Regions from separate parts of the Homo sapiens genome. Here all the other regions are reported to be linked to region 2. The links are microRNA targets in miRTarBase. Many come from high-throughput screens and were not tested one by one. Region 2 holds a microRNA gene; each other region holds the end of a gene's coding sequence.
The links. Region 2 holds the annotated microRNA hsa-miR-30a-5p (UGUAAACAUCCUCGACUGGAAG, at 6,813-6,834, opposite strand). A microRNA usually pairs through its seed, bases 2 to 8, with sites in the 3' UTR of a target mRNA and lowers its output. Matches are read on the target gene's strand: a 7mer-m8 pairs with bases 2 to 8, a 7mer-A1 pairs with bases 2 to 7 and ends in A, and an 8mer does both.

Region 1: the mRNA of DHX40 is a reported target of hsa-miR-30a-5p. Seed matches in the 3' UTR shown: 7mer-m8 at 4,290-4,296.
Region 3: miRTarBase lists ARF6 as a target of hsa-miR-30a-5p. The part of its 3' UTR that is shown has no 7-base or 8-base seed match.

The regions. Positions count from the first base shown.
Region 1 is chr17:59,603,872-59,614,794 of GRCh38, forward strand. DHX40 (DEAH-box helicase 40) reads left to right here. Exons shown (of 18, transcript NM_024612.5): 16 at 1,244-1,313; 17 at 1,575-1,803; 18 at 3,162-4,474. The coding sequence ends at 3,301. Among named protein-coding and RNA genes, the nearest start is that of CLTC, 11 kb to the right of the region's middle.
Region 2 is chr6:71,396,783-71,407,705 of GRCh38, forward strand. MIR30A (microRNA 30a) reads right to left here and starts at 6,839; the gene lies at 6,769-6,839. RefSeq lists an enhancer at 5,307-5,835.
Region 3 is chr14:49,892,496-49,903,418 of GRCh38, reverse strand. ARF6 (ARF GTPase 6) reads right to left here and starts at 10,337. Exons shown (of 2, transcript NM_001663.4): 1 at 10,262-10,337; 2 at 6,365-10,163. The coding sequence starts at 9,682. The coding sequence ends at 9,155. It also overlaps the pseudogene RNU6-189P. RefSeq lists enhancers at 460-579, 7,116-7,265, 9,408-9,457, 9,488-9,807, 10,678-10,777 and silencers at 9,968-10,157, 10,198-10,587.

The DNA.
Region 1 (10,923 bases), not on the chromosome of region 2:
CTAAAGATGCATAACCTGAATCTAATCATCCTGAAACAGACAAACTCAAACTGAGGGACATACCACACAGTAACTAGCCTTGACATCTTTAAAGGTGCCAAGATCATGAAAGTCAAAGACTGAGGAAGTATTCCAGAATGAAGGAGACCAAAGGGAAATGAAAAATAAAGGCAATGTATGATTCTGAATTACATCCTTTTGCTATAAAGGATATTATTAAGACAAATTGGTGAAATGTCAGTGGGGTCTGAGGATTAATTGTTAGTAATGTATCAGTGTTAATTTCCTGGTTTTGATGGTTATAGTCATGTCGGAGAATGTTCTTGATTGTTGATTGTAAGAAGTGCACAGTCGAGTATTTGAGGATGATGGGGTATTAGGTTGGCAGTTTGCTGTCAAATGATTCAGGTAAAAATTTTTTTACTCTCAACTTTTCTGTAAATTTAGATTGTTTCACACTTTTAAAAATATGGTATATCTTGGTTACCCTCTGTATGCCAAACACTGGGCAGGTACTAAAAATAGAAAAGTAGAGTAACATGAGTCCTTACATCATTCTTGATGATACCTGAGTCTAATGGAGGGTACAGATATGTAAGTGAATAATTACAGTGCAGTCTGATCTGGGTTATACTATGAATATATACAAAGTACTATAGGAAATAAATTATGACAAATGAACTAGGTTTATTTTTTTGACAAGTTTTTTGGAATGACATTTAGGTAGGGTAATGTAGAAGAAAATAAGGGCATGAATCGGAAAAATGATAGATTAATTGTCAAGTTTTAGAGTAGTGAAAAAATCATCCCTTTAAAAAGAGATGCAGCATAGTATAACATAAAGAAACCATATTTAAGTCAGAAGAACTGTTTAGGACTTGGTTTTACCATGCGTTAGCGCTGGTGATCTTGAGAAGTCTAGCTAATTTATTTGAATTTTAGTTTTGACTTTTTAATAAAGTTCCTGGCTCTCAAAGCTCATAGATTATTGTTAATATTTGTACTGATTCCTTATACCTAATTGTAGTGACTTATACCTAATTGTAGTGACTGTTTAACCTGTATAATTAATTTAAGATGAATTGGTAGAGAGCTTGTAGTGACAGTTGAATAAATGTAAACCTCTGCTTATAATGCTGTTTGTAGTAGAACATATTGTAATTGTTCATTGCTGAATGTAATGCTCCATTTACTTCATTGCTTTACTGTTGTAGTCTTTATCATTTTGTTTTTCTGTTTATAGATCTGTTGGGAGAACGTTTTGCACAATGGATGGTCGTGGAAGCCCAGTTCACATTCATCCTTCCTCAGCAGTAAGTACTTCATTTTTAATAAAGGGAAGAAATTTGTAAAGTTGTAGAAATAAGTAATATACAAATGTCTTCTACTTTTCACTTTGGAGTTAAATTTACATATATCTATATTACATAGATCTATAAGGGTATTGGTTGGCCTGTGCCTCCTGTTTGAAGAAGATAGGAATTAATTGAGAAGGATTTGGACTATTTGGTTGGTTTAATGTGGAATAGGGCAGGTTATTGAGTTACCATCATTAAAAGAAATGTTTTGTATAGCTTCATGAACAGGAAACCAAACTTGAATGGATCATTTTTCATGAGGTATTGGTTACCACCAAAGTCTACGCAAGAATTGTATGCCCAATCCGTTATGAATGGGTAAGAGACTTGTTACCCAAGTTGCATGAATTTAATGCACATGATTTGAGCAGTGTGGCCCGACGTGAAGTGAGAGAAGATGCAAGAAGGAGATGGACAAATAAGGAAAATGTAAAGCAGCTAAAGGGTGAGTAAATCATTTGTTCTACTCTTAACCACTATGCCATACTGCTTCCCAGTAGTACTTCACTATTTTTGTTTATAAAAATGTTGTGACCCACCTGGGCAATGTGGTGAGATCCCATCTCTAGCAAAATAAAAATAAAAATTAGCCAGGCATGTTGGTGTGCACCTGTAGTCCCAGTGACTTGGGAGGCTGATGCAGGAGGATCGCTTGAACCCAGGAGTTTGAGGCTGCAGTGAACTGTGATTTCACCAGTGCACTCCAGCCTGGGGGTGACAGAGTGAGACACTATCTCTAAAAAAAAAAAAGTGATGATTTATGCATTATTAACTCAGAATCCCCTTTGTTTCCAAGGGGCTTTTTCTTTCTTTCTTTCTTTTTCTTTCTTCTTTGAGACGGAGTTTTGCTCTTATTGCCCAGGCTGGAGTGTAATGGTGTGATTTTGGCTCACTGCAGCCTCTGCCTCCCGGTTCAAGCTATTCTCCTGCCTCAGCCTCCTGAGTAGCTGGATTACAGGCATGCACCACCACGCCTGGCTAAGTTTGTATATCCAAGGGGCTTTTTCTATGAAATAATTAGGACCCTGGTTGGGAGGCATAAATAGTTGTGGTACTGAAATAGGACAGAAAGTTTTTCAGCTCACATACACAGAAAACTTCTTAGTAAAGCTTTTTGAGGCTGAATGATGAAGCATATTGTATTTTCTTTATTTGACATCACTGCAAAATGGAATGGTGAAGAGTTTTGCCGAATAAATCATAGAAAAATCTTTAGAAATGTTAGCCACTAGGGAGGCCAGGCATGGTGGCTCACGCCTGTAATCCCAGCACTTTGGGAGACCAAGGCGGGCGGATCACGAGGTCAGGAGATCGAGACCATCCTGGCTAACACGGTGAAACCCCGTCTCTACTAAATATACAAAAAACTAGCTGGGTGTGGTGGCGGGCGCCTGTAGTCCCAGCTACTCGGGAGGCTGAGGCAGGAGAATGGCGTGAACCCAGGAGGCAGAGCTTGCAGTGAGCCGAGATTGCGCCACTGCACTCCAGCCTGGGCGACAGAGTGAGACTCCGTCTCAAAAAAAAAAAAAAAAAGAAAAGAAATCTTAGCCACTAGGTGTTCTATTACAGTGTAATAACACTGCCACATGCTTGAATTAGGGTCAGTTTTTCTGACTCATTGGCCTTGGTGCTCTTAATTTTGTAACCATAGACTACATTGCTTTTGAAAGGGCAAAATTTAATTTTTCTCTTTATTGTTTTTACTTTGTTAACACTGAAAAATCAGGGCTTCTCTTTCTCTTAACATTTCTAGTACTGAATCTCAAAGCTAAGTTTTATTGGATTAATTTGTAATGTTTTCAGATGGAATATCGAAAGACGTCTTAAAGAAAATGCAAAGAAGAAATGATGACAAATCCATATCTGATGCACGGGCTCGTTTCCTTGAGAGAAAGCAGCAGAGGACCCAGGACCACAGTGACACACGAAAGGAAACAGGCTAAGGTGGTGAACCCTCCAATTCAGGAAGTGGGAAAAGGAGCCAGGAAATGTGCTTCTACTTTGCCAGTTATTTCAGACAGCACTACCAAGAGGAGGTGGTCAGCACTTGTTATTGGCCTATGAACTAAAAGCAAATCAAAGCTCATAAATCAAAGCTCATCAGTTCCCATAAATGCAGTTGTCAAAGAAAAGATTTGGTTGCCATAGTCATAAGCAATGATACATGAAACCAATGAAAGACAGTACATGTAATAATATTTTCCTCAGTACAATTTTGCTGGCCTTAACTGGTATCAAACGCTGTCATTGAGATGTTTTCAAAGAACATTGAGTTGTATTTAATCAGCGTGTACTCCATTTGCATTGAAGCATTAAAAATTATTTTTCTTAAAATCTCTTTAAGGCCTTCTTGTTGCTGTTAGAATAGTGCTATATATCAGGTATGTGACCATTTATTTCAGAAGGCTGAACATAAGAGGTTTCTACTCAGCAATACTTAGATGTCTAACTGTTTAATTGCTACAGAGCTTTATAGATATTTAGAGAAAAGACTTAATCAATTAGTAAATAAAATTGCCTATGGCAGGATTCTTTCTTGAATTAATATTAATCCTTAAATTGATTTTTCTGGGATTATACAAATTCCTTTTTATATAAAAGTATATTGTTTAAAACAGTAGCTATAGCCATTAACCAAAGGACAGATGATATATATATATATGATATATATATATATATAAGTTCTTTTTTAGCTGTACCTACGTACTTATATCAGCACCATGTATGTAGGTGTGATAGTACTTTCAAACAGCGCCTCCACCTGGCCTACTCTGTTATTTCCACCTGTTTGGGTAGGGCCATTTAACTTCCATTATGCCAAACTTGGGATGGGATTTTCGAAGCAGACAACACTATTTCATCGTGTTTCAAATTGGAACCTTGAGGCTAGTTAGTATCACACTCAGGCCACACTCAGCACTTGCCCACTCTTGTTTACTGCCTTGTATTCTAGTTATTTGTGTATTTGTCTCCCTCACTAGATTATACGCTCCTTGTGGGCAGGGACTGTGTCTTTTTTCATCTTTGTATCTTTCATGCACCTAGCATAGTGCTTTGCACATAGTAGTCACTCAGTGTTTGTTAAATAAAGCTATTAGTGTCATTAAAATTCAAAAGACAGTATAATGTGTGTTTTTAGATATTTTGTGTAAAAATTAAGAATCTAAATTTTTTATCGGTAACTCTTCTAGTTATTTCCTTTGGAATCTAGTTTTATGTTCAATAATAGAAACTTGAAATCTTTATCAAAAATCACAAGGACCCAAATTCATGTATTTGTCCCTAAAGTAAGGTGAGTGATGATGGTTTCTCTAAACCTTTCCAGTGTTTTAATTTGTTAATTTTTTTTTTTTTTTTTTTGAGACGGAGTCTCACTTTGTCGCCCAGGCTGGAGTACGGTGGCATGATCTTGGCTCACTGCAAGCTCCGCCTCCCAGGTTCACGCCATTCTCCTGCCTCAGCCTCCCGAGTAGCTGGGACTACAGGCATCCACCACTATGCCTGGCTAATTTTTTGTATTTTTTAGTAGAGACGGGGTTTCACCGTGTTAGCCAGGATGGTCTTGATCTCCTGACCTCATGATGCGCCCGCCTCTGCCTCCCAGAGTGCTGGGATTACAGGCGTGAGTCACCGCGCCTGGCCTAATTTGTTCATTTTTATCTTTAGTGCTCTAGACACTGTTATTAGCACATATTAATCATTTAGTTCTGTCAGTTTCTCTTCTCAGGTGTATTGTATAAGGGCATATCCTCAGATGTGGTGGGAGTGTGTGGATTCTTGGAATGAGAGCTCTTCTAGTTTAGTAAATATTAAGCATATATTCTGAATCTACACCTCACACTCAAATTATATCTGTTGTTTCAGTAATGTCCTTTATGGCATTTTTCTGTAGTTCAAGATTTAGTCTAGGATCACGTATTGTATTTAGTCTCTTAATCTGGAAAAAGTCCTCAGTCCTTGTCTTTCACAACATTAACATTTTAAAATAATATAAGCTAGTTATTTTATAGAATGTTCTCAATTTGGGTTTCTCCAATGTTTCTTCATGGTTATGCATTTTTAACTGGAATACTGCATAAGTAATAGTGTCATGGTATCACGTCTGGAGGTACATGGCATTTTCCCCTTGCTGGTGTTATTAATGTTAATTACTTATTAGGGTGCTTTTTAAATTATATCAACCTGGTTATCCTTATAATTCATAAATAATTTGAGGGAGAGATACTTTGACATTATATAAAATATCTCGTTCCTCATAAAATATGACATTTTGTATTTACCATCAATTGATGATTCTTGCCTGAATCCATTTTATTCTTATGGCTGCAAAATGGTGATTTTTTTTTCTAATTCTTTTCTATATTTGTTGGTATTATATTGTAAGGAAGAGTTTTCCTTGAAGGATGAATGTCTGATAAACGGGTGGGTGCTAAGAAGAGCATGGATCAAGACAGAGAAGTATTTATAGAAAGCCCAGGGGGTGTTTGAGATGGTGGCAAACAGTTGAGTTTACTTGGTGCATAGAATATATATAGGAGAGTAGGTGGCTCAAACTGTTAAGGTCAGATTACAGAAGGCTTTGTAAACCAATCTATAGAATTTGGAATTATTTTATGGATTTGTTAGAAGGGAAGGACATCATTACAGTTTTGGGATAATTGTGATAGTGTTATTGATAAAAAATTTCTGTATCTCAGTTTGCATTGAGAGGACTGTGAGAGCAGTAGTATCAAGGGAATGCTGGATCTAGTTAAGGCAAGAACATGGAAGCAGCCTTGCAGGAAAGGTGGGTTTTATGGAGGAGTTTGTTCTTAGAAGAATGGGAATACACCTTCAAGTTACTAAATGAAACAAAACAGAATCAAAAACAAATTTTTTTTTGAGACGGAGTTTTGCTCTTGTTGCCCAGGCTGGAGTACAATGGTGCGATCTCGGCTCACCACAACCTCGGCCTGCCGGGTTCAAGCAGTTCTCCTGCCTCGGCCTCCCGAGTAGCTGGGATTACAGGTGCGTACCACCACGCCTGGCTAATTTTTTTGTGTTTTTAGTAGAGACGGGGTTTCACCAGGCTGGTCTTGAACTCCTGACCTCGTGATCTGCCCACCTCGGCCTCCCAAAGTGTTGGGATTACAGACATGAGCCACTGCATCCAGCTGACAAATGTTATAATAGAAAAATGGGCAAAGGACATGGTCGGTCCTTTTATAAAAGGGGAAACAGGAGGAAGGGTCAGTAAATAAAAGACAATGAACCTAACTTGTAATTAGGGAGACGGCATTCATTTCCATCAGATTAGCAATAATTAATACTCCTGAAAAGTGTTGGTGGTGAAGAATAAATTGCTTTTATTTAATTAATTAATTTTTCATACAGTTCTGTTGCCCAGGCTGGAGTACAGCATGATCATGGCTCACTACTTCTTTGATCTAGGCTCAAGCAGTCCTCCCACCTTAGTCTCCTGAGTAGCTGAGAGTACAGGTGTGTGCCAACACACCCGACTGGTTGTTTTAAAATTCATTTTTTGTATATATGGGGTGTCACTATGTTGCTTAGGCTGGGTCTCGAACTCCTGGGCTCAAATGATCCTCTTGCCTTGGCCTACCAAAATCCTGGGATTACAGACGTGAGCCACCATGCCCAGGCCAGCTCTTATTTTAGAGAACATTTTGGCAATATCTAGTAAAGTTGAAGCTGTGTACAACCTGATACCTAGTAAGTCCACCTCTAGACGTAGGTGGTCTTTGACTAGCGTATCACATCTGGAGGTACATGGCATTTGCCGCTTATTGGTGATACTAGTTTTGTTTACTTAGGGTGGACCCAGTAAGTCCACATTTAGACTTAGGGGTTTCTCTAGACTAGGAACTCTCAGACTATATACAATATTCTGTGCCTCATAAAATTGGACTCCTATAGATTTAGCGTTAATTGCTGATGATAAATACATTAAAAATGTTAAATACAGCATTCATTACAATGTGAAATACACCATTGTTGCTAATAGAAATCTGAAAACAGCACATATATATATAGCTATATCAGTAGGGAAAAGGTTTAATAAATTGTGATATGTTCTTACTGTTGAATCCTACAGCAGTGAAAGTGATTTCTGAGATTCCTGATGTGTACTCCTATTTAGCAGAACAGATGAACCAGTTCATATTCCAACCAGCAATATATGAAAATGCCAGTCTTACTACACCTCATAGTTCCTCAGTCTTCTAATTATTGACAAAAAGGTGCCTCATTATCTTAATTTACATATTTAGATATTTAATGCTTTTTCCATGTGTTCAAACTGTAGGGAATAATAAAATTATCTGATTTGAATTTGATAAGCCAGATAGTAAATATTTTAGGCTTTCTGGACATGTAATTTCTGTTGCAGCTACTCTGATGTTGTAGTATGAAAGCAACAACAGACAGTACATGAATGAATATCACTTTGTTCCAATAAAACTATGGAGAATGAAATTCAAATTTCACATGTCAGCAAATACAGTCAGCCCCCTGTATCTGGGGGCTCAGTATCTGGGGTTCCACAACCACAGATTCAACCAACCACAGATTTCAAATATTCCAAAGAAAATCCAATAAAAATAATACAATAATGAAAGATAAAGAAAAAAAGAGTATAACAACTATTTACATTGTATTAGATATTATAAATAATCTAGATATGATGTAAAGTATGCAGGAAAATGTGCATATATGCAGACACTACCCATTTTATATGAGAAACTTCAGCATCAACCAGATTTTGGTATCCTCAGGGGGAAGTCCTGGAACCAAACCCCAGCTGATACTAAGGAATGACTGGATTATTGTTTTGATTTCAGGTTTTTTTTCTTTGAGATGGAGTCTTACTCTGTCGCCCAGGCTGGAGCGCAGTGGCATGATCTCGGCTCACTGCAACCTCCGCCTCCCAGGTTCAAATGATTCTCCCGCCTCAGTGTCCTGAGTAGCTGGGATTACAGGCACGTGCCACCACACCCAGCTAATTTTTGTATTTTTAGTAGAGATGGGGTTTCCCATGTTGGCCAGGCTGGTCTCAAACTTCTGACCTCAAGTGATCCGCCTGCCTTGGCCTCCCAAAGTGCTGGGATTACAGGTGTGAGCCACCACGCCCACCAGTTTCAGTTTTTTACCACTTGTATTTGAATCTAGAAAAGCTACTTTTTAATATTCCCATTCTAACTTAAATGATCACTTCATTTGCAAGAAGAGGTCTTAATGAAATGTCAGATTTTTCTGGCTTTTACTTTTTCTTCATAGCAGAGTTGATGAGACTAAACATAATATCAAGGAATCAATAAATTTAAATAGTAATCTTTAATCACCCAAAGATTTTTAAAGTAATCCTTATTACTTGTTAGCTGTTCCTTTAAACTTAATACATGAATAATACAAAATTCCCTTGTGAAGCTGTTAAAGATTTTTCAAAGAAAATGATTAGTCACAGCTGGGCATGGTAGCTCACACCTGTAATCCCAGCACTTTGGGAGGCCGAGGTGGGCGGATCACGAGGTCAGGAGCTCCAGACCAGCCTGGCCAACATGGTGAAACCCCGTCTCTACTAAAGATACAAAAAATTAACTGAGTGCAGTGGTACGTGCCTGTAATCCTAGCTACTCAGGAGGCTGGGGCAGGAGAATCGCTTGAACCCATGAGGTGGAGGTTGCAGTGAGCCGAGATCGCACCACTGCACTCCAGCTTGGGCAACGGAGCAAGACTCTGTCTCAGAAAAAAACGACAATGATTAGTCACATTCTTTGTCCAGATAAAATCCACATATTTTTCCCACCTATTAATATTATTACTTGGTTCTCAGCTAAAATACAGGAAATGAGATGAGTGAACCCAAAATACAGCCTAGCACCCAGTTTGGTGCTTTGTATATGGGAGGTATTTATAAATGATTGTGCCAACTCCAGATGCGATTACTAACAACATAAAGTAGCCTAGGCTTCAAATTAAATGGGTCATGTAATCAATAAATGCTTTAATAGCTGGAGAAGTAAGGTAAATTGAATTTTTTTTTTTTTTTGAGACAGAGCCTCACTCTGTTGCCCAAGCTGGAGTGCAATGACGCCATCTTGGCTCACTGCAACTTCCGCCTCCCCGGTTCAAGCAATTCTCCTGGCTTAGCCTCCTGAGTAGCTGGGACTACAGGCGCCCGCCATCACACCCAGCTAATTTTTGTATTTTTAGCAGAGGCGGGGTTTCACCGTGTTGGCCAGGATGGTCTTGAACTCCTGACCTCAAGTGATCCACCCACCTCGGCTTCCCAAAGTGCTGGGATTATAGGCGTGAGGCACCGTGCCTTGCCGATAAATGGATTTTAAGCTGAGTCTTTGAGGGAAGAGTAGGACCTGCACTGAAACAAAAAGACAATTTGTGGGGTTGGGGAGAGGAACCAGATGTAAACAATGGAAAGGTTTTGGTGTCACTTTGAGAAGGATTTTTTGGAAGGGTTTTGCAATGTCCATTCTGTATCTTGGGTTAACACTAGTAAGTCAAATGGAGAATAATTTGAGTGTCACTCATTCCTACAGATAGAAAAATTTTAAAGTAGCTTGGGCCGGGATTTTCCTTTTATCATGTGCCATTGTGTACGTGTCTGCTACTTCATTTAGTTCCTTTTTTAAAAATGGAATTTTTATCACTTCTGTGCAAAGGTTAAATTTTTTTAATAAATTAATAATGGAATGTTTAAGCCTTCCTCAGTAATGAGTATAATCTTATCTCTCCATCTGATCTGATGGGTCAACTATATAGTAACTAAAATAGACTGTAACAGCTGTCTTCATCATTAGTTTTTATTTTCACCATGCATGTAGAATGCTTTATATTGTAGTCCCTTATTATCTGAGGTTTCATTTTCTGATGTTTCAGTTACCTGTGTTCAACTATGTCCAAAAATAGGTAACTACAATGATATTTTGAGAGACCACATTCACATATAACTTTTATTATAGTACATTGTTATAATTGTCCTATTTTCATTGTTAATATCGTACTGTGCCTAATTTATAAGTTAAACTTTATCATAGGTATATATGTATAGAAAAAACATAGTGTATACTGTATGGGGTTCAGTATTAGCTGTGGTTTCAGGCATCCTCTGTAGAGGTCTTGGAATATATCCCTTGTGGATAATGGAGGACTACATATTTGACTGGTTGGTGGAGTTAACCTAAGGAGACCTTTTCATGACTCTTTAAACTTTTAGGTTTAAAGGTTGACTCGGAAAAGAAAAACAATTTATATCAATAAATCTAAGGTAGGCTTATATGAATGCTGCATACTTTTCATCACTGCAGTGTTGTGGAATGAAAAGTAATTGTATGGATTTTATACTATACAACATTAAACTCATAGTTATTTGGAATATGAGCAACCAGGAAAAGAAAATAACCAGGTATTTTGTTTGATTTACATAGTAATCTACTTTTAGTAGTCATGACAGGATGAGGTATGGCATTTTAAAAAAAGTAATTCCTAGTATTGCCTAGGTTTGGTACTACTCAGATTAGGTTACATTTGCAGGAGTACTATACAACAA
Region 2 (10,923 bases):
CTACCCCTTCTGCACTCTCCACCCGTATCCCAAATACACACACTGAGGAGTACTGCTATGATGGGTTAGGTTTACAGACATTTTCTTGGCCAGTGCACTGAGCTGAAGGTTCAAGGACATGTAGGCATGGTCGTTACGCCATTTGCACAGACTTCCATGGGGACGTTCTTCCTCCCAAAAGCAAGGAGGAAGGTGTGTTCTGGAACAGGTCCCAACTTTTGCTTCTCTTCCATCTTCTCAGATAATCTTTCTTCTTCAACATATGTCATAAAAAGAACTGTCCAATATAGGGCTCTAGGTTACTGGAGTGTGAAATTAATAATTCCAGTGTGGCTCATTAGCATTCTACAGTGGGCTTGGAGCAGATGTCCTACTTAGTAATAAGATGTTATTCTGTTTTCTTTTCCGCTCCTTAGCATCTATTTCCTGTGGAACTTTTTCAGAGAGGGGTAGCTGATTTCAGGTAGTGTTGGGGCTCTGGTCCACATACCATCATATTTGCACTCTTACGTGTAACCACAGGGATCAAGGTTTTTTCAACTTTGCATCTTTCAGCATCTAACACCATTCTTTATACAAACAGGCATTCAATATTTATTGAAGTAAGCTGTTGTTCACCCTTTTATTTGTTTATTTATTTATTTTGAGAGAGGGTCTCACTCTGTTGCCCAGGCTGGAGACCTTTTTATTTTTTAAATGTTACTAACATTCTGGTAGGGTCAGTCACAATGATAGAGGTACTATTATTTAACTAAACTAAATTCAAAATTTAAAGAACATTTCATAATAACAAATACTAGTCTAATGCCTACTAGTAAATTTCAAACGTCACTATGACCTACAAGGCTTTACAATACCTGGCCTTTGCTTACCTCTGACTCTGTTTTGCTGATTTTGTACCAGAATACTTCATAACTTTTACTTGATCTGATACCTCTGGTCATCTGCACTTGCTGTTGCCTCTGCCTGAATGTTTTTTCCCCAAAATTGCACATGGTTGGCTCCTCCTCATGACTTCTGTCTCAGGACAAAGAAGGAGCCCATAGGATGAAGACAAGGGAATGAGGGAATTATTCCCCTGAGGAAATGAAAATTGGATTGAGACCTAAAGTATTAATGTGCATGTATGTGTATGCGTATGTATGGGTATATGTGTTTGGGGGTAGAGGTGAATAAAATAAGAGCACTCAATCTATGCAGAGGGAAGAGATGAGGCAAAGATTTTGAGATACGAAGGAAAAGAACAAGGTTGTCTGAACAATTGGAAGTCAGTGGTCAGTGTTGGGGGACAGCAGTAGGTGGGGCATACATCAGATTACAAAGACCCCTTTAGAATAAGCTCTACAAGAGGGGCAGTATAGGACTTACACACATTAGCCCTAAAGTAATATATAAAACTGAGTTACAGATTACTCATTCTTCATAAGAAAGAAAGAAAAATCGGCCGGGTGCAGTGGCTCATACCTGTAATACCAGCACTTTGGGAGGCCAAGGTGGGCGGATCACGAAGTCAGGAGTTCGAGACCAGCCTGGCCAAAATAGTGAAACCTCGTCTCTACTAAAAATACAAAAATTAGCCAGGTGTGGTGCCGCACGCCTGTAGTCCCAGCTACTCAGGAGGCTGAGGCAGGAGAATTGCTTGAACCTGGGAGGCAGAGCTTGCAGTGAGCCGGGATCGTGTCACTATACTCCAGCCTGGGCAACAGAGTGAGACTCTGTCTCAAAAAAATAAATAAATAAATAAATAAATAAAATAGAATAAAGAAAAAAAATCATCCTGCCTTCATTGGTATTCTCTTATTCTTGTCTAATCTAGAAAATCAACAGTGCTAGAAAAGTGTTAGTCACCCTAGGACTTTAAAATTTCCTTCAGTCAAAGTGAGCTGCCATATCCTGAGATTCAGGGGATGGGACTGCTCTTACAAGTCCTTGAGAGCTTGTTTTCTAACTCTAAACTTAACCCTAACTTCTCCAGCACTAGTCTTTCTGTTGTCTCAGGTGGTAAACTGAATGAAAGTAGTTTTAATTAGCTATTAGCATATCACACATAGTCAATAAGAATTACATGTGTACCAACAACCTGAATAGATTCTATTCTATACAAAAAGAACAGAGAAATTACCTCTCAGTAAATTGCATTTTCATAAACTGAATTTTACTTTTTAATTAGTCTTAAAATTTTAGAATTTCTAATAACTCATGATGATTTATTTTTTATTACACAGAGATTTTAGGTCAAATTATAAGAAATCAATAAAATCAAACTAGAAACTAAAGTGCAGAAAGGTTAATTATTTCAATGAACATTATTGTTTTTATGAATTAACAGTGTGTGGATTTCCTAATTTCTTACTCAGTATCTGACCATCTAAATTTATTTTAAGCCAAACATAGATTCACTGGGGTATAAGAGTAGAATGAGAATTGCAGAAAGACAACTATATAGCTGATATGGCCAAGAAAACCATTGAAAGCATATAAAAAAGAACAAACGTTTGAAAATTAAATTTTCTAGGTGGGCATTACATAGTTTAAAGATTGTAATTCTAAAGATAATTTTAATCTAACATGATTAAAGAGTAATAAATTTAGCAAAATCACTTCTTTGATATGCGCTTAGATCTATTATGCACAAAACATGAACACTCAAAGTTGAATGTTTGGATTTGCAAATTTTACCAATTCTCTGACTCATTTCTGCAGGGTTATACTCAGTGCAAATAAATCTTCATTCAAATAGGGCAACAATGTTTTTATTGCATTAACATCACACATCTTGAAAATAAATATATTGTTACTGACTGTGGGAATTATGACTGCAAATGCTACTGTTTTACGGCATTAAGATATTTATTTTATATTTAACTGCATTTCTTTAGCTTTTACATAAATTTTCCTTCACTGACAGGCTATTGGTATAAGCATTTCATCTTTTCAAACGTTTACTAAAAAATACCAAATTCCAAAATTCAGAAATGGTAGTCAGGCCCTACAAGGAAACACATTAAGAATAACAAGCTGATGATATGTTATCATACTGTAAAATATTTTATATTTTCTAACACACTTGCTAATATGTTACTTCACATCCTGAAATCTCATGTTATCATTTTTGAAATGAGAGCTGTGGAAAGATTCTCATATTACTAAGAGTTGTAAAGGCACCCGATGGAGCTCCTTCATTAATTTCTCTAACCATTCAGGGCACTGAAGTCTGTGGGGACAGTAAGTTCACATTTAGTGTTTGTGCTAAATGAATCCCCAACCTACTTTGTTTTAATTTGCATCAAAAAGCCTCTACCCTGAAAGTACTGCATTATTAAGGTTATATAATAATGAGGTATACAAATTAGGAAAGGCAGATTTAGCATCACTTGCTTGGCAACATTAACTTGCCCATCACATTCATATTGAGATTTTAGAAGTGTACATTAGCGAGACACTTCTCCGCACATTACAACAGAAGTCTATTAAAGAATATTTAATTCACTGACTATTATTTCTAATAATAAACATAATCAGAGGATACTTTTTTGCATTTTACTTACTGGCCATTAGGAGGTGTAAAAATGAGGAGGAAAAATAATAATCATAAAAACCCTCAATCTCAAATGATTTAACAGCTTCATTATGTATTTGTTTGGCAGTGCACAAAAACAACTACAGTACGCACTAGGAAATTTATCTTCCATATCTATACAGAATACTTCTTATGATATAGAACCACATGAAGAAAGTCTTCTGTATTATTTTAGTGAGATTGTTAAGACAGTTCACTAAGCACCACCTTTAAAATTTCAGTAAGGTGCTTCCAAAATTAAGATAAACAATTAACTTCCTGTTACTCTTCTGATACAGAAAAATAACGGGCAATTTTGAATTAGTGTTATTAAGCTACCAAAAATTGATACCACTCAGGAAAGATTGTTTTCCCCTTGAATGGTAATGTTTAGCTAAAATTCTAGTAAAAGAAAACAGAGCAATTCTGAGAGGAATCTAAATAGAAAGGGGTTTCTCAGGTCTAGGTAACTAATTCCCATGCAGACGGCCTTCAAATGCATTTCCCTTGCCTCCACAGTCCTCTGGTCTGGTTTTAGTTATTCTGTAGTAGAGGAAAGGCTTCATACATGTGTAATATTTATAGACAACATCATTGTAAAATGGAGTGCAAGTTCAAATCAGAGTTTTAAGGTCAGGAAAAATAAGTATCACTTAAATCATTCACCACTGACACTTTCAGAAGCTCTTAACTTCCTTTAGAAATCTCCCTTTCAAGCATGTGCCAATTTTTATTTTGGCAAATCATGAATAAAAACTAAATGTATAATACTTTTGATGATTACTCAGTGTGGTGCTATTTTTTAAACATTACTAACTTTATAGCAACACTCACATTACATTTAACTAACACATTTTGACAGTGTTTTATTTTCAGTAACTGACTTACTACAGTCCATTTTAAGAATTTTATGTTTTAGTTTATAGATATTTTATTATGCTGATATGTGAAATTTTAAAAATTATAGTAAGAAAAAAAACACATGAAAGCAATTAGTAAGGGTTTCTAATTTATGTTAAATATTAGTTTATCTTACCTAAGCACATGCATGGTAACTCTGTCCACGTAGTGGTAGAAACATAATACTGTAAACTTTAGAAGTTATTTTTTTTGTAAAATAAAAAATTGCATCCAGATCTTATTTCAATTATGAATAACACACTGTTGATGTTATTTTATTTATTTATATGTATATCTATATATATATATAGATATATTTTTTTTGAGATGGTAGGCTCGCTCTGTCGCCCAGGCTGGAGTTCAGTGGCACCATTTTGGCTCACCACAACCTCTCCCTCTCAGGTTCAAGCAATTCTCAGCCACCTCAGTAGCTGGGATTACAGGCACGTGCCACCACACCCAGCTAATTTTTGTATTTTTAATGGAGACAGGGTTTCACCATGTTGTTCAGATTGATCTCAAACTCCTGACCTCAAGTGATCCACCTGCCTCAGCCTCCTAAAGTGCTGGGATTACAGGCGTAAGCCACCGTGCCTGGACTGTTGATGTTACTTTAAAATAGTAGTTTACATTATTACTGTGGAAATGTGGGGCACAAGACATAAGAAATACTAGGTATTAATTTTGAAACTACCCGGAATGGCTTATGGAGGTTTGTATTTGTTGATTTAAAAATAATTAAAAATGCTGTAATTTTTACAAATTAAAAAGTTCCCATAACTAATTATTTACATGAACAAAATGAACAGATAAAAATGAAAAATGGAAAATTTAGGGGCAGTAAGGTAAGGAAGAGGATATAAAATAACATAGGAAGAGAACCTAAAGAAAGTGAAGGTCAAAGATTTAGGAAAAGTTTAACCATTTCTTCAAACCTATAGTCATTTACCTAGGAAATACGGTCGGGTGACCCCAGAAAAACAGCCGAGTTATTTGCTCCAGGGGTTTTCAGCTTACCAATTAAAATAGACCACATTCTCAGTTCCAGACCCAGGGCCTGGCAGAGGCCTCTCCAAGCCCCTTGCATTTCAGTGGCAGTTGATGAACCTCTCATGGCCCAGCATGACTAATAGAGTTTTGATAGCTTTATGTATGAGGGAAACTTAAAGACATTTCTAACACATATTTCTCTCCATCCCAGGTATTAGAAGAAATGCTACTATTTTAAATAGTGGTATGATCATACTGTTTTAGTATCACTTCTTTATCATCATCATCAATGGGTATTAAACAGGGAAAAGAAACTCTTTTACATTAATGGAAACACTATATATTTATAAAATACTGTGTTTTAGAGGACAAAAGATATCACTTTCATATCTTTTTAAAGTGTCTAGTTTCTATATAAGTGTATCCTTAATATTTCTATTATACACTTAAATATTTCTCTTATACACTTAAATATTTCTATTTAAGTGTATAATATTAAAAATATCCGCCATAAGAAAAATACGCATTTACAAAAAAGGAAAATTAGAAATTATGTCCATCACAGAAATCTTCTACAGGATTCTGAATCTTAAAATTGTCTTCATATATTTAGGATAGAATTTGATGTATTTATTATTTTTAAGAGATATGAGTTATTGCATAAAGCTAAGTTAAAAGTTCAACCAAATGGAAACAGTATCCACAAATTCCTAAAATACTATTCTAATCATCTGAAACAAGAATAGGTTTTTCAAATAATAGAGTTAGTTGAATCAGTATTTGTTTGTTTTAGACACTTTATTAAGCTGAGAGCTGCTACTTTATTACTTAAACACTAAGCCTATAAGGAAATAAAAGGGGTTTAATCCAAGTAATGTGAAAATAACTAACCCTTCATCTTACTTTTTTCCCCCAAATAATTGTGGTTTCATTAATGGATTTTTTTTTTGTGAATGGGTCTAAAAAACACCTATTTTGAAACTGCAGAAAGGGCAGGACAAAACAAATCACTTCATAGATTTTTCTGGGAAATATTGCCCTACTACGCTTTTAAAAAAAATAAAAATACTGTAACACATTTCCTCATTTCTCTTACGAATACTTTCTTTTTGATATTGCAAATTCTATGCATACACAGAGCACCTCCTCAATGCCCTGCTGAAGCCCTCTAAAAATGTACAGACATGGTTTTAAAGTGATTTAATTTATACCATTTTAATTCAGCTTTGTAAAAATGTATCAAAGAGATAGCAAGGTATTCAGTTTTAGTAAACAAGATAATTGCTCCTAAAGTAGCCCCTTGAAGTCCGAGGCAGTAGGCAGCTGCAAACATCCGACTGAAAGCCCATCTGTGGCTTCACAGCTTCCAGTCGAGGATGTTTACAGTCGCTCACTGTCAACAGCAATATACCTTCTTTAGCCTTCTGTTGGGTTAACCTGAAGAAGTAATCCCAGCAAGTGTTTCCAAGATGTGCAGGCAACGATTCTGTAAAGTACTGAAGCCTCATTCAAACAGCAATATTCTAGAAAATGTCTCAAATTCAAAACAAATAAGAAGGCTCATGGATGTCTATTATTCATCACCGAGCTTCTAGTTTCTATAAAATTTTGTGATATACTAAAACAACATATATAAATGGTTTCATTCATTATTGTTAGCCACAAGAAGTAAATAGGCAAGTGGCCAGGTTACTTAATATGATTTCAACATGCATTATGTAATTACAATCCTTTAAGCAAAAGTGACCAAACACAGAAACTAAATTATCTTAACAGCGTAAAGCGTACATTTAACATCAAATACTGCAGTTGAGTGAACTTAGACTACCGTGAAAATATAAAAGGTCTACTTGGAAAGTTATAAACTCTGACAAAAAAAAAAAAGACTTACATGCTGCTTTTATAGATCACTTTTGCTCTAAAGTCTGCTCCCAGAGAGGACTTGTACAGTCAGCTGATTTTTGAAAGAGTAAGCAACAATCAGGAGAAAAACAGAAAAGAATAACGAGGTATAACACAGGCATATATCAGTATGTGGATCAAAGTTTCCCACTGGAAAAACACAGAACCTATCACTCACAACAGTGACGCACATTAACTCCAAATTTGAATGTTTTGAATTCCACTCCCATTCTCTTATGAAAATAAATGAGGAAAACTGAAGGTTAAGCTCTATCAGTCACTACTTTCCTGAAGTAATTCAAAACCATTCTGAATCTAGTGAAAGATTAAGTTGATACAGAAAAGTGGGTGTGCCTTTCCCTGAGATTTGTTTTTAGATGAAGTTACCGTAAGGTTCTTAAATTGTGTAAGTCTTAGTAGTTTGTGATCTCAAACCCGAAACAAAAATAAAATCCACACAAAAAGCATCATGTTTACTGAAACTAACAAATATGAAGAACTCCATAAATTACTTTCTCAAAGCAAAGGGTAACTCTATCCCATTAAGGTTAAAAAAGTTAATCTTTGAGTCAGCAGGTGAAAACAAGCTGAATTATGTTGTGGCCTTTTTCTTTATTAACTAAGGACTTTGAACTATTAAAACTTCCTAGGGAACCAGTTTTCTCAATGGGTCAAGTCACACAGGGGAACAAAGCAAACTTTATCAGTGCTGTGCAATTCTACATTCCAGAAATTCTTAGTACTTGGCATTCATATACCACTGCTGACTAGAGCTTGAGTCAATCCACCAAACTCAGCTATGGCTACCAACCTTGTGAACTTCTCACCAAGATACCCACTTCTTTTAAGTTAGCCACGACTAGACAGGCAGAGTACTCTTTAATTAAAATAGATAAATACCAAGGCTTACACCCTGGGGGGACATTGTATATCAGTGACTCTTTACAAAAAGAAAATATTTTTACCACCATAAATTTTTCTCAAAGTGACAGGTCCCCTACTTGCCTTGGAATCTTACCACTTTTAAATAACTGTAAATTATTAAATAACATGTAAAACAGTGACAAGTAAATACTAAGCAAACAACCTCAAATAACAAATAATTACTTAAATAATTCTATTGCCACCCTCTCACTTTGAGAATTGCTGATCCAAGTGGGACCTATACTACTCAGTAACCAAAAAAACAAGCATGTAGTTTAAGTAATAATGAGTCTCAGTTAAACTGGTAAAATTGTCTGGCATCTGACTGGAATAAATCTGCTTTAGCTTTCACATAGACTTCACCTAGCTCATATCTTGCTAAAAGAGGAGCCCACATACATACAGGCAATAAAGTGCTTTTCCATTTATGAAGTATTATAACTAAGATCTTATGGTCTTTAATTATTTTGTTTAGTGAAAATTTGATGTTTATTCATGAAGTTCTGAGCAAAACGCTGTGTTTTCAAAGTTATGTTAAGGAATTCATTGGATCAGCAATTCTCCAAGTGAGAGGGTGGCAACAGAATGACCAGGACAGCTTCTTCTAACCCCACATACCTGATTGCCTCTGCCACATCCACATTGCAATTCTTATTCAGCTGATGGGGAGGCTGCTGGGTATGTAAATTTTGCAAAAGCTATCAAACAATTTTGCTACACCTTCAGGGCAGAGAACCATTGATCTAGAAGGACTGAGCTAAATAAGTTTAAGACTAAAAAATCTTGCCATGACCTGAGAAATATGACCAGTAAATCCATTTAAAAATCGTGAATTAAAAACAAATATGGCAGAATAAGATCCAATTGTGTTCAATACATCAGACTCTGATTTGTCTTATATAACCCTAGAAATGCTTACAAAAAACAATGTACCTACTTTAAAACCATAAGGATACTCTTTAGCCCTGTTAGACAAGGTCTCTAAAGTCTTCCCACCCTAAATTGCAAATCTGGATGTCTGTACCCTGGACAGGTTTTATTATCTTCCTCACATCAGTTTTGTTTTAAGTGCTTGCAGGATTAATTCTTTCTGGTGGAGGGTTTAGAAGCAGCCCGAGATAAAGTGTAAAAATTTTTTTTAGCTACCCTGAACCATTCAATCCTCTTCCACCCTTCTCCTCTCATGTCCACATAACCTTCTCGCTCTCTATCCTTGGAGTGTTTGCAGTGAAACTCTAAGAATGAACATGTTCCATGTCAGCACTGGACCCAGTGCCCAGGCTCTACATCCTCCAATCCTCCATCTCTTTGGGGGCTTAGTGTCCAGGGTAGCTGCATTAATAGTTTTGGCATTCATCTTCTGTCTTGTTCCTTTGGTAAAACACACCTAAAGGCAAGAAATCTAGGTGGTCTTTGATATCTTTTCTAGAAAGCATACATAGAACTGATCTGAAATTGAAGTGACCTAAATGTACAAACAAAATTCTGCCCTTTAAAATTAATCTTTACCTTCTCTGATTCATTCTTTTACACATACTCCACACTCTTTTAGTCCAATTCAAGGGCTTCTAATTCATTATATTTCCTGCTAACGATGATAATGATGAACCTTCCCTTGAATTTCTTTGTAATTAATACAAATACAGACCTACCTACTCCTTGCCTCATGAAAGTGGACGAATGCTGTAAGCATTTACTGGGAGTGATTTCCCATGGATTGTGAAAATGTGAAAGATTGTTAACGAATTCAAATTCTAGGAAGAAGAGTATTATCTTGGATAGTATAGAGTTTACAGTTATAAGGAATAAAATCTCTTCTACTCTAGAAATGAGTATCGCTTAAATATCATTCTCTGATAAAATGGTAATGAAAAATAAATTGAGAATTAAGCAAAAGTGTATGTACTCAAGTTTAAAGCCTTAATTTTAATACAACCTCAACTATGTATTTGTTGTATGACAAATAATGCCTGCACATGATCTCATTTCATCCCTGCCACAGCAAGATAAGGCATCTATAATCATTACCATCACAGATAAGGACAACAGGCTTGGAGAATTGAAATCACATCCGTTACTCACTTTTCTATTCTGATTTTTTTTATTGTAAGCTTTTCTGAATCATTTGTGGAGTACTGGAGGGTGTGGGTTTCAATAAATATGAAGTAGTCAATCATAGTTCAATGAAAATTGCATTTTCTTTTAAAATTGGGCATAAAAAGTTAACAAATCAAAAAATGTTTGAGAGTAGAAACAAATATCCAGATCCTTTGGTGATAAAGCAGTTCATTCAGTTACTCATTCATTCATCATATATATTCACTTGCCAAACTCTCCTCTAAGTGAATACTGACTTACTATCTATGCCGGAGTTCCTCAGACAAGAGATCTCAAAGCCTGTCAGACAGCTTTTTTGGTTGTGGTCACCCTACTATCTTCCTCCTGCACTGGGACCCCCATCTGGCTGGAGCTCCTCCTTCCTACTTTGGCTGGCATTCTTACAAGGGAGGGGGATTCCAGAGGGTCAGGGCATCCCAGCCTCCAGGCTAATAAGGGACTTTCCACCCCACTCCCATCCTGCTCCCTCCCTTCCTTCAGGCAAGTCACTGTCAGCAGTTCCCTGGCACCTCCCTTAGACCACCTGCTGG
Region 3 (10,923 bases), not on the chromosome of region 2:
AATTGAATTCACTTCTATTTTTTAAATGTGAGCACTAAGAATTTTAAATTACATATTTGGCTTGCATTATGTTTCTATCGGGCAGCACTACTCTAAGAATAGTTACAAAAGAGAGAATCCCTAACAGATTCAAACTCTTTTTCAGCACTGCAAACAAAGTACTTTACCCAATTATCAATGTCTCTCCATTGAAGTATGCTATATATCCTGATTTCTACCAATGGTGTTATCATTATCTTTTATGTAAGAATTAAGATCAACGCCGGGCCGGACACAGTGGCTGACACCTGTAATCGCAGCACTTTGGCAGTCCGAAGCGGGCAGATCACGAGGTCAGGAGTCCAAGACCAGCCTGGCCAACATAGTGAAACCCTGTCTCTACTAAAAATACAACAGAAAAAAAAAAAAAAAAATAGCCGGGCGTGGTGGCAGGCGCCTGTAATTACAGCTACTCCGGAGTCTGAGGCAGGAGAATCGCTTGAACCTGGGAGGCGGAGGTTGCAGTGAGTCAAGATCGCGCCGTTGCACACCAGCCTGGGCGACAAGAGTGAAACTCCATCTCAAAAAAAAAAACAGATCAAGGCGGGGCACAGTGGCTCACACCTGTAATCTCGGCACTTTGGGAGGCTGAGGCGACCGCGTCATCTGAGGTCAGGAGTTCAAGGCCAGCCTGGTCAACATGGTGAAACCCCATCTCTACTAAAAACACAAAAATTAGCGGGGCATGGTGGTGGGCGCCCGTAGTCCCAGCTACATGGGAGGTTGAGGCAGGAGAATCACTTGAACCTAGGAGGCAGAGGTTGCAGTGAGCTGAGATCATGCCATTGCACTCCAGCCTGGGTGACAGAGCGAGACTCTGTCTCAAAAAAAAAAAGAATTCAGATCACAATTGTTAACGCTTTCTTCCTCCACAAGTAACATATTTCACCAATTTATTTCATTTTCTCACTTCTTTCTCATTTCTCTACACTGTACTTGGCCCTCATTTTCTCAACTGAATTATCAACAAAGTCTCCTGAAAGGACTTCTTTCTTCCAACCTCTATCCATAATCTTGATACATGATTCTATACAAAGCTACTAAATACTCCTAAACACTGTGACTCTCTCCTGCTATCTATCTATCTATATGCACAGAAAGATATGTGTGTATATATATATATTTACGTATGTAAAAATTCAGTGGCTCCCATTACACACAAAACAATATCCAAACTACTTGGTAGAGTTCTTGAGGGTTCCTAAATATCTTTTTAAACTTAGACGTTTTGAATCTTACCTCCTTTCGTACCACTCAAAGTCAGATATAGGATTGTAGGTAAAATATAGGATGGCCAGTTAAATTTCAATTTAAGTTTTAGTATATAATTTATATATATAGTATATATAATTTAATATATAATTTTAGTATATTGCTTGGGATGCAGTTGTACTAAAAAAATAGTTTATCTAATTGAAATTTAACTGGGATGCTCACTTCAGCAGCACATATACTAAAATTGGAACAATACAGAGATTACATGGCCCCTGTGCAAGGATGACACAAATTCATGAAGCATTCCATATAAAACTTTTCTTAAAAGAAATCTATATATAAGTATACAAATAATCAGCTGAGTGAAAATTTTAATTTTTCCTATTTTTCACAATGATCTGTCAAATTCACTATCAAGCAGTCAAATTTGATTTTTACAGAAAAAAAAAGTTCCCTAAGTGCCTAATACTGTGTTTTCCACTGTACACAAGAGTGAAATTATACAGGGACTCAAAACTTATTGATGGCCGGGCGCGGTGGCTCACGCCTGTAATCCCAGCACTTTGGGAGGCCGAGGCGGGCGGATCATGAGTTCAGGAGATCGAGACCATACTGGCTAACACGGTGAAACCCCGTCTCTACTGAAAATACAAAAAAATTAGCCGGGCGCGGTGGCGGGCGCCTATAGTCCCAGCTACTCGGGAGGCTGAGGCAGGAGAATGGCCTGAACCCGGGAGGCGGAGCTTGCAGTTAGCCGAGATCGCGCCACTGCACTCCAGCCTGGGCGACAAAGCAAGACTCCGTCTCAATAAATAAATAAATCTTATTGATGATAAAATAAGAAAATTATAGGAAATTTACTTAAAGCCAGGTATTTATAAGAAAACATACACCAAAAAGATACTAAGAACATGAGTAAGCACTGGTTCACCTTAGTCACATTCATAGTACAGCAGAGACTACCTGAATCCAAATTCAGGCTCTGCTACTTATTAACATATACCTCTGTATGCCTCAGTTTTTTCAACTATAAAATGAGAGCCCTATCTCCCAAGGTGGCTGTGAGGATTTAGAGAATTAATACCCATTCAATGCTTAGAACAATGCCTGACACATGGCAAACATTCAGTAAATGCTAACTCTTACTATTCTTAGAATATTTCTGAGTTTGATTTCCTTAGGCCTAACTCCAACCTAGGACTTATTCATAAAACTAACTTTTAAAAATAAACACGTGGGCCGGGCGCGGTGGCTCACACCTGTAATCCCAGGACTTTGGGAGGCCAAAGTGGGTGGATCACCTGAGGTCAGGAGTTCGAGGCTAGCCTGGCCAACATGGTGAAATTCCATCTCCATTAAAAATACAAAAAAAAAAAAACAAAACCAAAAAAAAAAAACTAACCAGGTGTTGTGGTGCACCTGTGGTCCCAGCTGCTTGGGAGGCTGAGGCAGGAGAATCTCTTGAACCTGGGAGGCGGAGGTTGCAGTGAGCCGAGATCGCGCCACTGCACTCCAGCCTGGGTGACTGAGCGAGACTCCTTCTCAAATAAATAAATAAATAAACACATGGGCAGGCACGGTGGCTCACACCTATAACCCCAGCACTTTGGGAGGCCGAGGCGGGTGGATTGCCTGAGCTCAGGAGTTCGAGAACAGCCAACACGGTGAAACCCCATCGCTACTAAAAATACAAAATTAGCTGGGCGTGGTGGCGCATGCCTGTAATCCCAGCTACACGGGAGGCTGAAGCGGGACAATCACTTGAACTGAGCTGAGATGGAGCCACTGCACTCCAGCCTGGGCTACAAGAGCGAGACTCCACCTCAAAAATAAATAAATAAATAAATAAAATAAAAAATAAAGACATGCAGAGAAAGCACTTTGGTTTGCCTTATTATAACCAACTTCAAAGATCCAAATTTCTGCTCTACCACAACAATGTTTTTTTTTCCCTCTCATATGCTATAACCTTCTCAGGCTATTCAGTTGTAATGGAAAACAACTTTTATAATCATAAATAACTAGTTTCACATAGGTCTTTCTATGAACTACAAATGTTTTCATTTCTTTAAAGCTCATTTCTAAATGTCCTCAATAAAATTTACTTCCATAACTTCCGCTAGATTACTTTGTAGTAGTCTAAAATAGTTATAGGTTTCACAACTTTGTAATAGTTTAAATAGTTTAAAATATAGATTTCTCATCCTACTTGTAGAAATTATTTAGTATGATTTAGTATTAATATATAACCCTCTAGGCAAGAAATAATCCATGTGTGAAGCAAATTTTTCTAGTTTATATTGGTTAGAGGAATAATACTGGAAACCAAATATCATGCACCATAAGTTTCCACGTCAATAAAACACTTCCCCTTACAAACTTTCTCCATAAAAATAATAGACTTATGACTTAATTACAGAAAGAGTGGATAAAAAAGCCACAGTTAAACGATGTTATCTGAACCTACACCAAACTAATCTAGGTTATCTGGAAGAAAGGACACGTAACAGAGAATCACATTTAACTTAAATCCAAAGACCAGTAAAACTACCACAAAAATAAAAGAAATATTTAAAATGAAGTGACTCACACAGTTTTAAACAACTGTGTTAAAATCAAAACTGAGAAACTACTGATTTCACGCATTTAAACTCATTTAGAAAAACAAAATCCAGGTTAGACTACTCAATAACAAGTCTTAGCTCACTAAATGTATAAAATGTGGAAATTCTATGTCACTGTGCGCTAATTTTTTTTTTTTTTTTTTTTTTGGGACGGAGTCTCGCTCTGTCACCCAGGCTGGAGTGGCAGTGGCCCGCTCTCGGCTCACTGCAAGCTCCACCTCCCAGGTTCACACCATTCTGCCTCAGCCTCCCGAGTAGCTGGGACTACAGGCACACACCACCTCGCCCGGCTAATTTTTTGTATTTTTAGTAGAGATGGGGTTTCAGTGTTAGCCAGGATGGTCTCAATGTCCTGACCTCGTGATCCGCCCGCCTTGGCCTCCAAAAGTGCTGGGATTACAGGCGTGAGCCACCGCGCCCAGCCTCTGTGTCCTAAAATTTTGATTAGATTCATTTAACAATGGCCTTTCACTTTCAATTGTTCCATTTCCTATAAATTTTGATAATGTTTTAAAAATTGGCTTTACACTCGAGGTTAAATGTTTTTCCTAAGAGCCAGATAGTAAACATTTTAGGCTTTTCAGGCCATATATTGTCTGTCACATATTCGTGGTTTTTTCTTAAAAACTTTACAAATCCTTTAAAAATGTAACACCCATTCTAGCACAGTCCCTATAAAAAACAGGCTGCAGCCAGATTTGCCCTTGGCCAGTTTTCCCACCTCTGCTTTACACTGTACTATTATCTTTCTGTGACTATGTCAATTATACCAATATTAACATTTCCTCAAGTATCTGCTCAAACATCACCTCAATGAGGTCTTCTCCGAACACACCTACCTATTCCCTAATATGTGTACATACATAACATATTGTACAATATATAGCATATAACCTAACAGACTTTTACTTATCATCTGATCTTTGTTCTCTGCCCCCAACCCTCCAGGTAAGTTCCATGAATACAGATTTTTTGTTTTTTTTTTCACTGTCGATCTCCTGCACCTCAACAGTGCCAGGCATATTAGTAGGCTCTCAATAAAAAAATCTACCCTCACACTTATAAAACAAAATACTATGGACAAAATATGTATTCTATAACAAATGAAAGATATTCAAGGACAAAACTGACAAATACTTTCATTTTTAAATTCTTTCAAGTAGTCATAGAACATTTCAAATAAAGGGGGAAAAGGTTAAAATTTTTATTTTCCCACAATGTGAGGTTAGTTCTTACAGTCTAGTTCTCTTGAAATTTACCATTACTTCAGTTATATTTAATTGCAGATTTGCTTTAATTCCTAAATCCCGCTCCATTCTTGTTCTGCCTTCCTTGATCTCACCTCTGTGTTCCTTGCCTGTTCAGCTCACTAGTCTAGTCTGGCAACTTTTGTTTGGCAAAGCAACAAGTTGCTTTGCCTCTTCTATGGCTCCATCTCCCAACATTCCATTTTTGTAAACTCTCTAATACTGTAACCTTTACTAATCCTTACCATTTAATTAAAGCAAAAGGCTAGATAATATTGAATATTATACTCCAAATATATTATGTTCAGTGACTAATCACTTAAAAATTTCTTATAATTGCTGTATGTGGTTTTACAAATACAGTTTTTACCTATAAGGAAAGATACAACTTACCTTACTTGTAATCCTGATACATATTGGGCAAGGTATTGAGAAAATAACTTTTGGAATTTTGTAAGCTCCATCACCATTCAGATTATGGCTACTTCTAAGCTTATATTAAAACATAAAAACCCATTCATGGGGAAAATATTTTCTACTGCTAGCACTGAAAAATTGATACTTTGTCACAGTATCTTAACCACAGTACTAAATATATTAATAAATATTAACATGGGGTTAAATCATACTAGAGATCACATGAAGACATTCTAAAATCACACTATAAAAATTGCTGATATAGGAGGAAAGGCTTACAAGAATGTCTTTCAAACCCTTTTATCCAACAAGTTATTCATCTTTTACTTTTCTTTCTTCCAACCTTATCCTCTATGATACTATTTTACTTTCTAAATGAATACAGTTTTGCCATTTCGATAGGACAAACAATTTGACCTCTAAAAGAAACTTTGAAATCCAAAAGTCTATAAAGAATTAAGGCCTGAATTTAAGACTTAAGGCCAATTCTTTAGACACAATTCTCTACTTCTAAAAATGCTAAGGTTGTAATTTGGAAAAAACAGCAGAATAAAGACTGCTATGGGACCTCAAATTTTAAAAATTGTTTAACTGTGGTATTCTAAATTATCATACAATCAGATTAAGTTGGTGGAACTAAAACAGGGCGCATTACCTCAAACAGCCAGCATTTACAAGAACCAAATTGATTTTTTTTTCTTACAAAAGTCAGGCAACTTCCAAATTAAGTCACTTTTTACCATATACCCTGGAGAATAACATGGCCCGACACACCACACGTCCCACTTATCTAGTTCAAGCGAGTAACATAACGTGAGAAACTGCACTGTGTAATTCCTTTATTTTCTGCATATTAGTGCTTTACCAACACTACAACCATAAAGAACACAATTCCAAGTACTGTACTTTTTAGTTTGGGGAGATCACAGTCTACAGACTCATTTACTTATATTAAACAAGATTAACCTCATTCAAAACTTACTGCAGTTTATAAATTCACATAAATACAGAAATGGATGCAATTAAACAACTTCAGGATCTTATTTTTAAAATTCTTAGATAATTTTTTCTGCAGGCTATAATTACCTGCTCCAGTCACCAATGGTTATTGTTCAATTTAACTACATCAATTATAAACCTCTTATATCCTTAAAGAAAATTTTAAGTGAAAATTACAATTTCTTACCAAAAGGTTTAGGGTTTTCCAAATTTCAAATATTTGCTTCCCCCTCCCCCCTTTCCAGTCAAACATTTCAAATAAACTAAAAATAACCACATCTCACCTGCAACATTCAATAATAGCAATCACTTGATGTATAAAATTTTAACTATGCCCCCAGTTATTTTAAGACACAAAAAAATGGCTGCCTACCAATCTGTCTTCACAAGTTAGAAATACTACATTTAAGATTTAACATGAGGGTTTCAAGTTTCCTCCAGTTTAGGCATTTATACCTTTGTGCTTGTTTTGTTTCAGGATGTTACTATAGCATTGATATTGGATAACCCATATTTATATACTTTAAAATGCAATCATTTGAAACACTAAAAATTACATTTATGGTGGAGCTTTGGAAATTTTAGAAAGCAACCAGTGTTCTTAGATGTGTTTATCAGCCTCATTTCTAGAGCTCTTTCTACTAAAGTGAAACTGAGAACTTCGTACTTTAGTTGTATCCTGAAATCAAAAAAATCCCTCTGCACCAACAGGAGCCTACATGAGAATACCCTTTTGCATCTGCTTTAAGTAAAATGTTTGTTAAGAGTTTTACTTTGAATAGTTCATTTTTTTATAGTCTTACACTTCTCATACATCTTTGGTAAAAGCTCCATTATACAATATGGCCAAAGTGTGAAGGACCAATACTGTCCAACTATACCATGATATCCCGCTCAATTTTAGTTTTCAGACACCCTCATAAACAAAACCCACTCCACCTTTTCCTGTATACTGCCTTTGCAGTCTACATTTCTGAAATTCCCTATTTAATTCCTTGAGGATCACTAAAATTAATCCTTAAGGCTATATAGGAACCAGATGCTGCTTTACAATTCTGCATCAAGCATTAACATTTGGTTCAAAATATTATCATAGTGGTCGCAATCCAGTTACTGGTCCTAACCAGCTAACCAAGTAATCTTGTTAGGATCTGGATATCACCAGCGAGCACACTGCTTACACATGAAGAAAAATAAGTTTACATTCATTGTCATCTGTAGGTTCTTTCTCTTCATCCTACGTCCCCTTTAATAGTCATCCCTCAAGTCTACACATCATTCATTCATCACGCTTCCTTCCTTAAAGGAGACAGTGTACTATTGAACCAACAGGATATCTTTTTTATTATTTGCATGAGTTAATCCTACAAACAAAATTAAATACCTCTTTTATAAAACATCTTTTCCAGTGTTCTAATTGATGGAGATGCGGATCACTCATCTATAAAAAATGACTTACAGCTTCAGCTTAATCAGTTGCTATAATGTGAAAACAGGAATGTGTATTTTTTTCAACTAGGTAAAAGGTGCATATAATTTGAATTGTTAAATGTTTTATTAATGAACAAAGTAAACCTTTTAGTAATTTTTAAATTACTGGTCTTAGGTGTTTGAAACAAGGTAAAAGTATACATTCCAGTTTTGCCCAAAAGTCACTTAAAATATCTACAAATTATTTAATCTGTGTGTGGTAACACCATTATTGCTCCAATTTCTGGAAAGAGTCTATTTTCAAAGTTTAAAAAAGAGGAAAAACAGCAAAGTGGCTAACTTTGCAGTGGAAAGAAAAAGTGTCCTTCATGGGTTACACTTTCATATTTTTATGCAGCATTAAGTTATCTACGTTATGGGGAACTTGGGTTTTATTCCTACTCATGCATGATGTGTTTCAGAACTTACTTGCTGACATTTCAGAGAACTTCTTACATTACCTGTTTAACATACTGAGGTGCAACTGGAACATATTACAATATTACTCATTATTTGCCACTGTGGGCTAAGTTTACTATACTGGTCTTAGATATAAAAGGTCACATTTGAAATTACTAAGTTAGAACTCATAAGGAAGGGGGGGGAAGGCCTTAAATATAAAAGACAAACGGCAGTTTGATTAAGCAATAATTTTCAGTTTACTAGATGAAACAGACTTGCAACATAGTCTGCATGAATGCAAAATAAGCCATCTACAGCAAGTGATAAGGAAACTGGGCAAAAAAGGAAAAAAGCATACATAGGAAAATGAAAGATTCTCTCGAAATAAAAAAATCAAACTATTATTACAAAGGACTTTACCAAGAACTGCTGTGTTTCCCCCATCCCATCTGCTGGAAGTCAACAAGAGCATCTAGCAACTTTGTGTTCATGTCAAATGTCAGATCAGAGCATCCTAACGCAAAGCCAACAAAAAAAAAAAAAAAAAAAAAAGGAAAAAGAAAGGGAAACAAACAAAAGAGAAAACCCCCAAGCCCCGTCCCCGCCAAACTGTAGAACAGTAACTCCAGAGTTCAAATTCAAAAGAAGAGAAAGTGGCAATTGAAAGAGGTGATGGTGGCGATAATCCTATGAATGGGTTTTTGATTTCTCTCCTTCCAGGGGATGGGTGGAGAATGCTCATTAAGATTTGTAGTTAGAGGTTAACCATGTGAGCCCCTCATAGAGTCCGTCCCCTGAGGTGGCACAGGAGGGCTGCACATACCAGTTCCTGTCCCGAATCCGGGTCAGGCCCAGTTTCTCCTGGATCTCGTGGGGTTTCATGGCATCGGGCAGGTCCTGCTTGTTGGCGAAGATGAGGATTATGGCGTCCCTCATCTCCCGGTCATTGATAATGCGGTGCAGCTCCTGGCGAGCCTCATCGATGCGGTCGCGGTCGGCGCAGTCCACTACGAAGATGAGACCTTGGGTCCCAGTGTAGTAATGCCGCCAGAGCGGCCGGATCTTGTCCTGGCCGCCCACATCCCATACGTTGAACTTGACATTTTTGTAAGTCACCGTCTCCACGTTGAAACCCACAGTGGGAATGGTGGTCACCGACTGGCCCAGCTTCAACTTGTACAGGATTGTTGTCTTGCCGGCCGCGTCCAGGCCCAACATGAGGATCCGCATTTCCTTGTTCCCGAAGATTTTGGATAGCACCTTCCCCATCGCGTCGGAGGAGCCGGGGCCGGGGGCATTCAGGTGTCCCGGGTCCCCTCAGCCAACAACGCCGCCGCCGCCGCGAAACCGAAACGAAGCCTCTCGGCCGCGAGAGCGCCTTTGCGGCCTGCGTGGGAGTTGCCTCCTAAGGGCAGAGGCCCAGGCCCCCCGCTCACTCGGGCATCACCGACCGCACAACTTGATTTCTCCAGTCGCCGCCGCCACCCGGGCCCTGAGACTGCGCTGGGAGCCGCCGCCCTGCTGAGGCGCGGCCCGGCCCGGAACTGCCCTTCCCCCCGCAGGCGCCGCGCGAGCGCCGCCGCGGTTCCCGCTCCTCCGCCTTCCTCTCACCGCGAGGGAGACTGCAGCCCTCCGGCCCGCCCGCCGGCCTGCGAGCACTGGGCTCCCCACCGACCCAGGACACCCGAGAGGCAGCGCGGCTCCGGGGCCCCGTCAGGTCATGGATCCTCGCGGGAACTCGGTGCGCTGCCTGCAGAGAAACAGAGAGGGAGGGGAGTTACTGCCAGAGCTCCACAAAGGAGCGAAGACCGAGGTGGCCCGCCTTTCCAGCTCGGCCCAAGGGGTTACCTCCAGCCGCCGCCCCGAGCGCGGGCTCCCTCCGGCCTCCAACTCCTCCTCCCAGTTCTGCCGCCGCCGCTGCCGGAAAAGGCGCCGAGGAAACCGCCTCACTTCCCCTCCCGACCACGCAGGCGCAGCAGAGGCCGACCGTTCGGACAAGAGCGACCTCTGTAAGGAGAGCGGCCCGCGCGCCTAGCGTCATGGGCGCCACGCGCCGGAGGGGCGGGGCTACGGCGCCTCGGAGGGCTCGCAGATGCGGCCGGCCCAGAGCCCTCGAACCTCGGACTCTGACTCGCGCCTACCCGTGGCTCTTCTAGCGTCTCCTTCCCTGCTTTTCTCTTTTGCGCTCTGCCCTCCCCTGCCCACCCGAACCAAGGGAGCAGATCTACTGGGGGGCCCTACAGGGTGGGGCCCACGGGCAGCCCGCTCTCTCCACGAACCGAGCTGCCTCCAGGCCTGTTCCCAGACCTCGGTGCCCGCCAGATGCTCTGCGAATTCCCTCCGCCCGCCCCAGCCTTCCCGCACCCTCCGCGCTCCCTGAACGTCCCAGGGAAGCTCTGTTCGCTTTTGTTTTTTTTTTTTTTCCCTTTTTCGCAACCCCTTCTTGGCTTCCTTTATCCCTTGAATTTTGTATGTTTCCTGAAAGACACGTGGGAGGCCAGTGTCTCGTG